Regions from separate parts of the Homo sapiens genome. Here region 1 is linked to region 2. The links come from fine-mapping of genetic effects on gene expression. A gene starts in region 2. The other region holds a variant in brackets. All regions are shown on one strand. Distances are between the middles of the regions.

Region 1 (5,516 bases), 230 kb after region 2:
TGCCACAGATGTGTCCTTGGAGGTGAAATTCTCAAGTTTGAGGAAGGGGAAATCCCTCGTTGGGGCTTGGTAAATCACCAAGCCTCAGGGACGCTTGATGTGGCCGCCACCTGGTGGCCACAGCAGGAGGTACGGCGTTGGTGGCCTGATGGGGGCTGGTGATGGGCGTGAGCCTTCCTGGGTGTCTGCAGCAGGGGCAGGCAGGCGTATTCTTTCCACTGTGTCATCACAGGGCCTGTGCTCTGGCTGGTGGCAAGCTCTGCCACTAACTCGGGAGATGAGAGGAACCGGGGTTGTGAGGAGTGCCTAGGACTAGACCAAGTGTGTGTGTTTGTGCGTGTGTGTGTGAGTGAGGCCTTGTCTCTCATGGATCGATTGTCTCCTCTACTTCAAAGTTCCTTTGGGGACTTTCCAGCCACTCACTAATGAAATGTTTAATATCCCACCTATTTTACAGAGTAAGAACCTGAGGCTCAGGTTGGTGAACTGACTTGCCCAAGGTCAGCAGCCTAGAACAGAAAATCAATCTGAGGTCTGTTGGACCTCAAAGCCAGTGCTACTCTGCCCTCCAACATTCTTCTACTTGGGGAGAGTTAAGGAAGGGGGGTGGATGTATACTCACAGTCTCCAGGCCACCATTTGGTGGCAGTCAGCGTGGGGCTGTGTATCACAAACTCCTGGGTGGCTGCGTCATAGGTGGCTTCAGTCTCCAGGCCCTGAAGATATGTCCCTTAGGATCAAGGAGAGGTGTTAGACATTGGCCTGAGGTGGGGTTCTTACCTGTGAAGCTGCTTCTAGGTGGGTCTGAACTCTTAGGCATCAGCGCAGTATGGAGTGGGGCCCAGCTCCCAGCTGTACTTGCAGGCAGTTCTCCCCTTTCATCTGTGGGCTGTGTGTGGGACACACAGTCCCCTATAGCCAGTCCATGAGAAGGGGTGGCTGCTGATGTTTCCAGAAGGAATGACTTGCCCCACTGGGAGCTCATACAATACGTGCAAATTAGAAGGTGGCACCCCTTCCTCAGGACCCTTGACTGCCAGCTGCTGGAATGTTTTCTTATTAAACATATGTCCCTCGGAGCATATGAACCTATGACTACCTAGATGTAAATGGGCCCTCTGGAGTTTTGCAGTGCACAACCTAAACACCACACGCAGCAGTCCTAGCTCACCATGTCCCAACTCTGTCTGTGCATACGTTGCGATGATCTGGATGTTTTTGCAGAGTGGGTCCCATTTGGCAATCTGCTCCTCTGAGCCCAGGCTCCTGAGGGCTCTCACGAAGACTCTGTGTATATTTAAGGCCACGTCTCCAGAAAGGGCTCTGTTGGGGAGAGATGCTGTAGTTGAGTAGCTTATTGGAGACAGGGGCCCAGGTACCCCCTGCCTGAGCAGAGTACAGGAGATAAAGGGCACCTAGCATCCTGGTTTCCCAACAAGTCTTCCCTTTGTTGGGGGAAATGGCTCATGGGGCTAGGGGGTTTCCAGGTGATCCCAGGTAGATCCCTCTCTAGTGGGGCTGCTCGAGGAGTGAGCACCTGTAAGCGTAGCCTAATTCACGACCATCTTCTAACCAACCCAGGCGCCGAGCTATCAACCGGATGTGGAATGCCCTCCGCATGGCAGCCTTATAACGCTCATTCTGGGTCATGAAATAATTGTCCTTACAGCTAAACTCCGGGTAACTGTGGATGATGCTCTCTGCAGAGGACAGAGAACAGAGGGCTTAGGGACCTGGGTGAGGTTTCTGGCACCTTGAAATCTTCTCACCCACTTGCTTCATGGATCTGGAAAGGAAGTCAGACATTATTGTTATTTTACAGATGACAAAACTGAGGACCAAGGTGGGAAAGTGAATTGCCCAAGGTTACAAAGCTATGCAGTGGCAGAATTTTAGGACCAGAATCCAGGTCTTCTGCTGCCTAGGACTCTTCTATCCCCTAGGTGGGCTCAGGCAATATTGACATGTGAAGATTGTCTTTACAGTTCGAAGGAATGAATCTCTAACAGTGGAATTTCAAGGGCAAAGTTTGTTATTTGGAAGCAGAACTGCTAATGAAGGACTCTTCTTACAAGAGAAGCATGGGGCATAAAACAGATGTCCCATTCCCCAGCTTCCCCTTACCAACTTTCCTGCGGAGTGCAGTGTTCTGGGCACCTCCATCAAGGATGTTGGTGAGCCGTTCCACGTCAAAGGACTGCATATACCTCTCGCTCTCTATGTCGGGGTGCATTTGCCTGCTCCAGGTATCCCCCAATGACACTCGGTGCACTGGGCTGCCCATCCTATCCTGGATCTGTCTGGTGACTATGGAGAGACACTTCCAACCCGGCTGCTCCGAGGGTCTGCTCTCAGCATTGGTCAGTGCAAAGAACCTGTGTGCAAGAGGAACTGCCTAGGGCTGGGTGTCAGCCAGGGCTGGTTGGTAGAAGAAAGACATCCCTAAGTACCTGAATGCCACTCCACCTCCCCACTCCCCCTGTGGACACTGGCTGTGGACCAGGCACTGTGTGCATGGTAGGCATGGTATGCAGCCATTGCTTGGTACATGTTTGTTCAATACTTGTTAGCCAAAATTGGACAGGGCCTGACCCCAAAGA[T/C]TGGGCTCTATCCACTGCAGTTTGAGTTACATGAATTGCCTAGGGAAATCTTCACAAAAAAGTCAGTGAAGCTTACACCTGAAGAAAATAATCCTGGAGAGGTTGAGTGGCCCCTAGCCACACAGCTGGAGATGGCCAGGAGTTGGATGGGGTCTGACCACAAAGCACATGACTTGTCCATACTACAGCTCCACTGTGGAGGATTGCTGGGGGCACCTTGGTCTCATTAAACTGCTCATAAGTTCTAGGATCACTCAGCTCCATTTCTATGAGCCCTGCAGGTATATTGTGGAACTGAAGGGAGGAAGCCTTCTTCCTGCCTGTGAAGTGTTCCCCTGGAGCCCCTGAGTGTCTTTCATACCCAGGTTGGACCCTGTCTCCTTCATGGCAAGTGCTTGGCCTCTGAGAAGCCCCTATTCCTCCACAGTGAGGCAACCATGAGGTGCAGTCCATCCTATTTCACAAGTCTCTTGAGTCCATCTGCTCCTTGCTATCTCTTTGGCTAGCATCCAGGCCACTGTTATCTCTTACTTGGCCTCAGTGTTCCTCTTATTTGTTCTCCCAGCTGCCAGGTGAACTCTTGAACTGCAAATCACATTGTTTTCCTCTCCTGCTTGGAATCTGCTCCTTGGGGCCCACTGTTTGTGGAATGGAGTCCTTGCTGTGTCTACCCAACCCTACTCCACTCACCTCTCTCCTATGTCAACTTACTGCCCTCATCCCTGGCCTCCACTCATTCTCTTCCTACCCTTTGCCCCTGCTGTTCTCTCTGAACAAAGTTCAGCTCCCTCGTTCCCTGGGTGCTCTAGGGTTAGGGACAAGTTCTTATTTGCTTACATGTTCCTCCCACAAGGCCTGGGAGGCCAGCTCTGCATTTCCTAGCTTGCAGCAGGTATGTTGTAAATCTCTCCGGCAGGCTGCCATGCTTTTGATCCCCTTCCTTCCTGACCTCAACCTGACAGATGCACTGCTGTTATTACCATTTTATGGAGAGGATGTGGGCCTTGGAAAGGGAGGAGACTTTATAAGGGTCATGCAACCACATGTAGCAAATGATTCATATGAGGCTTTCAAACCAATACCCCCAGCAGGGCTGTGGGGGTGCTGGCAAGGGGCCCCATCCTCTGCCCCCCGGAGTCCTGCAAGTGCCCCTAGTGCGGCTCCTCTCGTCCTGCCTTACCTCTTTTCCTTGCTCTGCTGCCACTGCCTCCTTGCTGTTCTGAATGCTCCAGGCCTCCCTGCCACTGCCAGCATTTGCTAGGGCATCTCCATCTGCCCAGAACACCCTTTCTTCAAATGTCACTAGGGCTTTTTGCATTGAACCTCATTTAACCTTAAAGAGGCCACCCTCTTTAAAACCCCAAGCCCCCTCCCCCGGCATTCCCTGTCCTCCTCACTCTGCTCTCCTTTTTCTCTTTTCACTTATCCCCTTCTGACATTTGAGATCATTTACTCATTTCATATGTTTTTGTTTACTTCCATCTCCCTGCTACTAACACAGAAACTGCAAGAGGGCCGGGATCTTTGTCACTGTCATGCCGTGACCCTAACACTTAGTGCAGGGCCTGATTTGCAGGAGGTGCCCAGTGAAGAAAGCCTTGCTCAGGGTCTCTCGGAGCTGCGGACAGGGTCATCATGGGGGCAGCCCTCTCCTCTGGGGTCTCCCAGTCCCTCCCTGCCCAAAAACCTGGCTCACCTGGCTCCCCTCTGTCCTGTGTCCGCACTGTAGGCCGGGCTGGCCTCTCCCCGGCTGTAGGCCGCAGCCTCTGGCAGGCTTGTGGTCCTGCCCTTCTCTCCTCCCACATAGGGGCTGGAACACAGAAGCTGAGAGAAACTGCTTGGCCAGCTCTCAAGCCCTTGTCTGCTCTCAAGCCCTTGTCTGCTCTCAAGCCCTTGTCTGCTCTCAAGCCCTTGTCTGGGCTTATGGAGCTCCTCTCCTTCCTCCCTCTCTTCCTGCATGGGTGTGACCTTTGTGCCTGTCGCTGGGGCTGCCCTGGGAGGACTTCTGGGAGGTTGGAGCCCTTACATCTCAAAGCCAGGGATTCCTTTGACACTACTTGTACCAAAAAGCTGTGTACCCCAGCAGTGTTTCCAAAGTGATATCCTGGTCTTCCCTGATCTTTCACTGTGTGCCCTTCAGGCACTCAAGCTGTTAATATCACACGAGCTTAATAGGCTCCCCTGAGATGGTCCTCATGTGAAAGGATTGCTCTGTAAGGTGTACGTTTTTCCTCTCTCCCCATGTTTCTGCTCTAAAATATGGCTTGTCTTATGCTTAGCATCCCCTGACATTCCCTGGAAAAATATTTGTGAAGCATCCATCTGTAGTGTGTGGGATCCAGATGAGAGCTGGGTCTTAGTGAGAGGAATGAGAGGCTTAGAGGTTCCCTCCCTGCATAACCACCTTGGAAAGTCAGATGCGGCTCCCCATTTTGCAGGTAAGGAAACAGGCTCAGGGAGGGATGTCACTTTGTTTGGGTTTGCACAATAAGTAGATTACGTAACACATTTGTGTAAGACTGGGAAAGAAATCAAGGGGCCAGTAGGAGATCAAGGCTCCTGTTCTGGCAGGACTTCTGAGCTATGTTGACTCTGAGCAGGTGTACTCCTTTCTGGGCCTTGGCCTCCCCTGTAATGCAAGGTATTTGCTCAGTAAGGAGCCTCACAGCACCCCATCATATCCCCAAGGTAGTGTCTAGCTTGTGTCTGTAGGAAGAGGCAGGACCTGTGGCCCAAGCTTTGCAACTTATCACCTAGTAGGTCCTTCTGGAGCTGTGGGGCTCAGACTCCTGGCAGTCCTCATTGCTGTGGGCAGTGGTTTCAGGGAAGGTGGTCTTGGCCCCACTGTTTGGAGGTGAAAGTTCTTACTTACACCTGGACTCATCTCCGCCAAGGATTTATGCTATCACTGACCAT
Region 2 (5,000 bases):
CATGCACCTGTAGTCCCAGCTACTTGGGAGGCTGGGGTGGGAGGATCGGTTGAGCCTGGGAGGTTGAGGCTACAGTGACCCATGATCACATTATTGTACTACAGTCTGGGTGACAGTGAGACACTGTCCAAAAACGATTTTTTAATATAAAATTTAGTTGAAAAACAAAAGTTTTTTTTTGTTTTTTGTTTTGTTTTGTTTGTTGGCAGAGTCTCGCTCTGTCATCTCGGCTAGAGTGCAGTGGCGTGATCTCAGCTTACTGCAACCTCTGCCTCCTGGGTTCAAGCAATTCTCCTGCCTCAGCCTCCCGAGTAGCTGGGATTACAGGTGCGCACCATCACACCCAGCTAATTTTTGTATTTTTAGTAGAGACAGGGTTTCGCCATGTTGGCCAGGCTGGTCTTGAACTCCTGACCTCAGGTGTTCTGCCCACCTCGGCCTCCTAAAGTGCTGGATTACAGGCCTGAGCCACAACACCCAGCCAAAAAACAAGTTTTTTGTCTTTATCATTCAAAGGCATCTCTTTTATCCTCCGCTCTGAATTAATAAGACAGCATGAGAGAATTCAGGCAACTGGGAAGACACTTCATTTTCAGGGTTTGTTGCAGCAGGGTGAAAATTATCTATTGTTCCTTGAAGTTCAAAATACAGGAATTGCTCTGGTTTTCCTGGGCCACCTGGCAGGATACATTTGCCAGGCAGCTGGCTTACAGGAACCCTCTCCCATTACTGAGGGTTTCCTGGGGTGCCAGACACTTTATACCATCAACTCTTTTTCCCTCAACTCTGTGAGGTAGATGCTAATAATCTCTCCATGTGACAGATGAGGGAGGTAGGTAAGTGGCAGAGGATGCATTTGAAGCAAGTTCTGGCAGCTTCTGAAATCAAGCTTTTTTGAGAAAGATAATACTTGGGTCTGTGGGGTCTGTGTTTGCTTTCTCCACCTCTTCCCACATCTGGAACAAGCCCTGTCTCCTCTGAAGGAAGAAGAAAGTAGGAACCACAGAACTGGAGAGCATGGCCAAGGTTGAGGACTGAAGCTTCTGGAAACAACACAGTGGGATTTTGAGAAAATAATTGAGGAAGGAGATCCCCGCTGACTCAACTGTCCTGTGCAAGGCAACCCTTTGCCCCCCAACCCAAGCAAAACCAGCACATCCATTTATGAACAAATGCCTTCAGTAAATAGATGTTGGGTCACCATTGGGTACCAGGAACTGGGATGCAGTGGTGAGAAACACAGACAAGGCCCCATCCTCATGGGGGTTACACTAAAGTTTCCCTTCCCACTGCAGCCCCTCAATTGGTGGTAATACAGTGCAGTATGGAGAGCACTGGCTAGAATCAGACAGCCCATGCCACTGCTTATAACTGTGATCTTGAGCAAATAACTTAGCCTCTCTGTGCCTCAGTTTCTTTTCCTGTTGCCAGGCTAGAGTGCAGTGGTGTGATCTCGGCTTACTGCAACCTCTACCTCCCAGGTTCAAGCAATTCTCCTGCTTCAGCCTCCCGAGTAACTGGGATTACAGGTGTGCACCACCGTGCCCAGCTAATTTTTGTATTTTCAGTAGAGATGGGGGTCTCACCATGCTGGCCAGGCTGGTCTCGAATTCCTGGCCTCAAGTGATCTGCCCGCCTCAGCCTCCCAAAGTGCTGGAATTACAGGCATGAGCCACTGCGCCTGGCCTGTGCCTCAGTTTCTACCTCTAAAATGGTGATGATCATAGTAATAGCCATCTCAGGATTGTGTGAGGGTTCCATGAGATGACATATGTAAAATATTTTGCATAGTGCCTAGCACAAAGTAAGTCTTTACTTTGTGGGTCTTTCCAGGACGGCCTAGATAGAACACCTACTATGTGCTGGGAGTCACAAGGGACACTGAGAGTGGGTCCTATCTTTGGGGAGTGCTTGACATAGGAGATCTTGAGGAGAGGAGATGCTAGATATAATTTTGTAGGCTGGGCGCGGTGGCTCACGTCTGTAATCCCAACACTTTGGGAGGCGAGGTGGGTGGATTGCCTGAAGTCAGGAGTTTGAGACCTGCTTGGCTAACATAGTGAAACCCTGTCTCTACTAAAAATACAAAAATTAGGCCAGGCGCGGTGGCTCACGCCTGTAATCCCAACACTTTGGGAGGCCGAGGTGGACAGATCACGAGGTCAAGAGATTGAGACCATGCTGGCCAACATGGTGAAACCTCGTCTCGACTAAAAATACAAAAATTAGCTGGGCATGGTGGTGCATGCCTGTAGTCCCAGCTACTTGGGAGGCTGAGGCAGAAGAATCACTTGAAGGGAGGCGGAGGGTGCAGTGAGCCAAGATGGCGCCACTGCACTCCAGCCTGGGCGACAGAGCGAGACTCCATCTCAATAAATAAATTATAATATAATGAAAAAAATGTGTAGAATGACTCGGGCGCAGTTGCTCACGTCTGTAATCCCAGCACTTTGGGAGGCCAAGGTGGGCAGATCACTTGAGGCGAGGAGTTCGAGACCAGCCTGGCCAACATGGTGAAACCCCGTCTCTACTAAAAATACAAAAATTAGCCAGGCATGGTGGAGCATACCTGTAGTCCTAGCTACTCAGGAGGCTGAGGTGGGAGAATCGCTTGAGCCCTGGAGGCGGAGGTAGCAGTAAGCCAGATCGCGCCAGTGCACTCCAGCCTGGGCGACAGAGTGAAACTGTCTCAAAAAAACAACGAAAAAATTGTTGAATGAATGAATGAATGCATGAAGAAATGGATAACTATGAAGCACCGTCCAAGGCGGAAAAAACCCGCCCTAAACCGCACCCCAAGCAAATTGCACACACGGCTTTCCCGGAGTGGACACCAGAGGGCGCTGAGCTCGGCCGCTCTCAGCTCCGGATCAGGATTCGCGCCTGGGTCCTTAGGACGACGCCGCGTGGTGACGTCATATCCGCCTGGGCGTCACGCTTCGTGGGGCGGGACGAGGAGAAGCCAAACGTAAAGACACCAGGAGTTTCTCGGGCCCAGCTGTGGCTGCTGCCGGGGAGCCCCAAGCCTTGGCGGGTCCTTGCGGCGAATAGGAGTCTGGTCAGGCGTCAGGCTAGTCCGACGAAGAGTGGGTAGGTGGAAGCCTTCCAAAGAGCGGCGGTTGTCTGGGAGCCGTCTCAGTTGGCCGCGACCCGGGCGCATGCGCGGGGCGGGCGGTGCGCCTTGGGTAGCTTGTCCTCTCCGACCCCGGGCGCTGAGGGCCTCTGTACGGCGCCGCGTAGGGTCTCGGCCGCAGAACGTGGCCGAGAGGCCCGGGCGAGACTTCGGGACCGTGTCCTGAGCGCTCTCCATGCGCCCGGCGCGAGGTGAGCGCTAAATAGTGGTTGTTGAAAAATATTGAAAGCCACCCAAGTGCTCAGCAGTAAGGATATTGAGCTTTTTAAAGTGATTGATTTAGTCCAAAAATTGTACGTCGCACGCCCACTGTGCACGACCCAGTGTTTTAGGGCCTTGGGAAACAGCAGTGAACAAGATAGCAAGATTCTTGGAGTGGACTTTTGTTGGGGTGGGGAGGGGAAGTACAGATAAAGATAAACGAGTTACATAATTGTCATAGAAAAAGGCAAATGCTACGAAGAAGAAAGCAGGGACGGGGCATGGGGGTGGGGTGCGGTGTTAGCCGAGAAGGGCACTGGGCCAACCCGATTGAGATTTGAGCTAAGCCAGGAAGGGGGCAAGGGTGTGAGTCCGGTGGCTGCCTGGAGGAAGATCTTTCCCAGCATGGGGAAAAGCTAGAGCCGAGGCCCAGCGGTGGGAGCGAGACTGGCGCGTGAGAAAGAGCTAGGCTAGGCCTGTGTGGTGGCGGGGATTGAGCGGAGGGAGAATGGCAGGACATGAAGTCAGAGGTGTAGAGGGAGCAGTCCTGCAGGTGAGGCAGAGCCTTGCAGGCTGCTCTAAGGACTTTGGCCTTACTCTGGATAAAACGGGAACCATAGCAAGATTTTGAGCAGAGGAATGATGTAGCTTGAGTAGATGTTAATAGACTCACTGGCCGCCGTAGGGATGGAGAAGCGGGGGAGTAGGGAGAATCAGATTTATTACTAATAGGTCAGATTAGGAGCATCCCTGCGCAGCCACTAAAAAAGGCTGACTCTAGGCCGGGCGCGGTGGCTCATGCCTGTAATCCCAGCACTTTGAGGGGGCCGAGGTCGGCGGATCACTTGACGCCAGGAGTTCGAGACCAGCCTGGGCCAACATGGCGAAACCCCATTTGTACTAAAAATACAAAAGTTAGCTGGGCGTGATGACGTACGCCTGTAATCCCAGCTACTCAGGAGACTGAGGAGCGAGAATTGCTTCGACCCAAAGCACTCCAGCCTGGGCGACAGAGTGAGACTCCATCTCAAAACAAACAACAAGACTGACTTTAAAGATGACGATGACAGTAACTTCGTGAGCCCACATCTGTGGAGAGCCTGGTGAATATATTTAATACCAGTCTGTACAAAATAATTTCCCAGGTATCCTCTCCTTTAATGTCAGAACAGCCTGCAGAGGGCAGTGCTGTCATTTGTAAGTCTTTTTTTTTTTTTTTAATTGCAAAAAATACGTGACATAAAATTTATCGTAAGTAGCATTGAGTACATTCACAACGCTGTGCAGCCATCACCACTGTCCATCTCGTGAATGTTGTGTAAGTCTTCGTTTTACTGGCATCTAAGCCCTGGGTCTAATTTCACTCCCCTATTTTAGGCAGCCAGCTCCATCAAGGCAGTAACACTAAAAAACATTTATGTGCCAAGCAATGAAAGAAACAGATGAGGTTTCTTGTTCTCCCTGCCCTTCTAGTTAGGGGAGACTCTAGTGACTGGGAAAGAAGCATCAGGTAACTATTTCCGCTGTCCTGAAACCAAGGATTCTTTTGAATATATAGGCCTATACCACTATCACTTTTCTCTCATTTGAATACCTACTTTGTGTCATAGTATTACAGTATTTTTTGTTTGTTTGTTTTGGAGACAGGGTCATGCTCTGTCACCCA

What was found.
Region 1: its variant is fine-mapped to the expression of RPP14 in prefrontal cortex (GTEx, PIP above 0.99).

The regions. Positions count from the first base shown.
Region 1 is chr3:58,532,823-58,538,338 of GRCh38, forward strand. It overlaps ACOX2 (acyl-CoA oxidase 2), which reads right to left and starts at 4,368. Exons shown (of 15, transcript NM_003500.4): 1 at 4,297-4,368; 2 at 2,125-2,375; 3 at 1,538-1,700; 4 at 1,172-1,323; 5 at 623-730. The coding sequence starts at 2,284. LOC107984079 (a long non-coding RNA gene) reads left to right here and starts at 2,550. Exons shown (of 3, transcript XR_001740724.2): 1 at 2,550-3,492. The variant T/C (reference allele first, on the strand shown) is at 2,601.
Region 2 is chr3:58,303,328-58,308,327 of GRCh38, forward strand. It overlaps RPP14 (ribonuclease P/MRP subunit p14), which reads left to right and starts at 2,918. Exons shown (of 6, transcript NM_007042.6): 1 at 2,918-3,090. It overlaps HTD2 (hydroxyacyl-thioester dehydratase type 2), which reads left to right and starts at 3,193. Exons shown (of 5, transcript NM_001348712.2): 1 at 3,193-3,324. RefSeq lists enhancers at 2,704-2,783, 2,974-3,233, 3,354-3,483.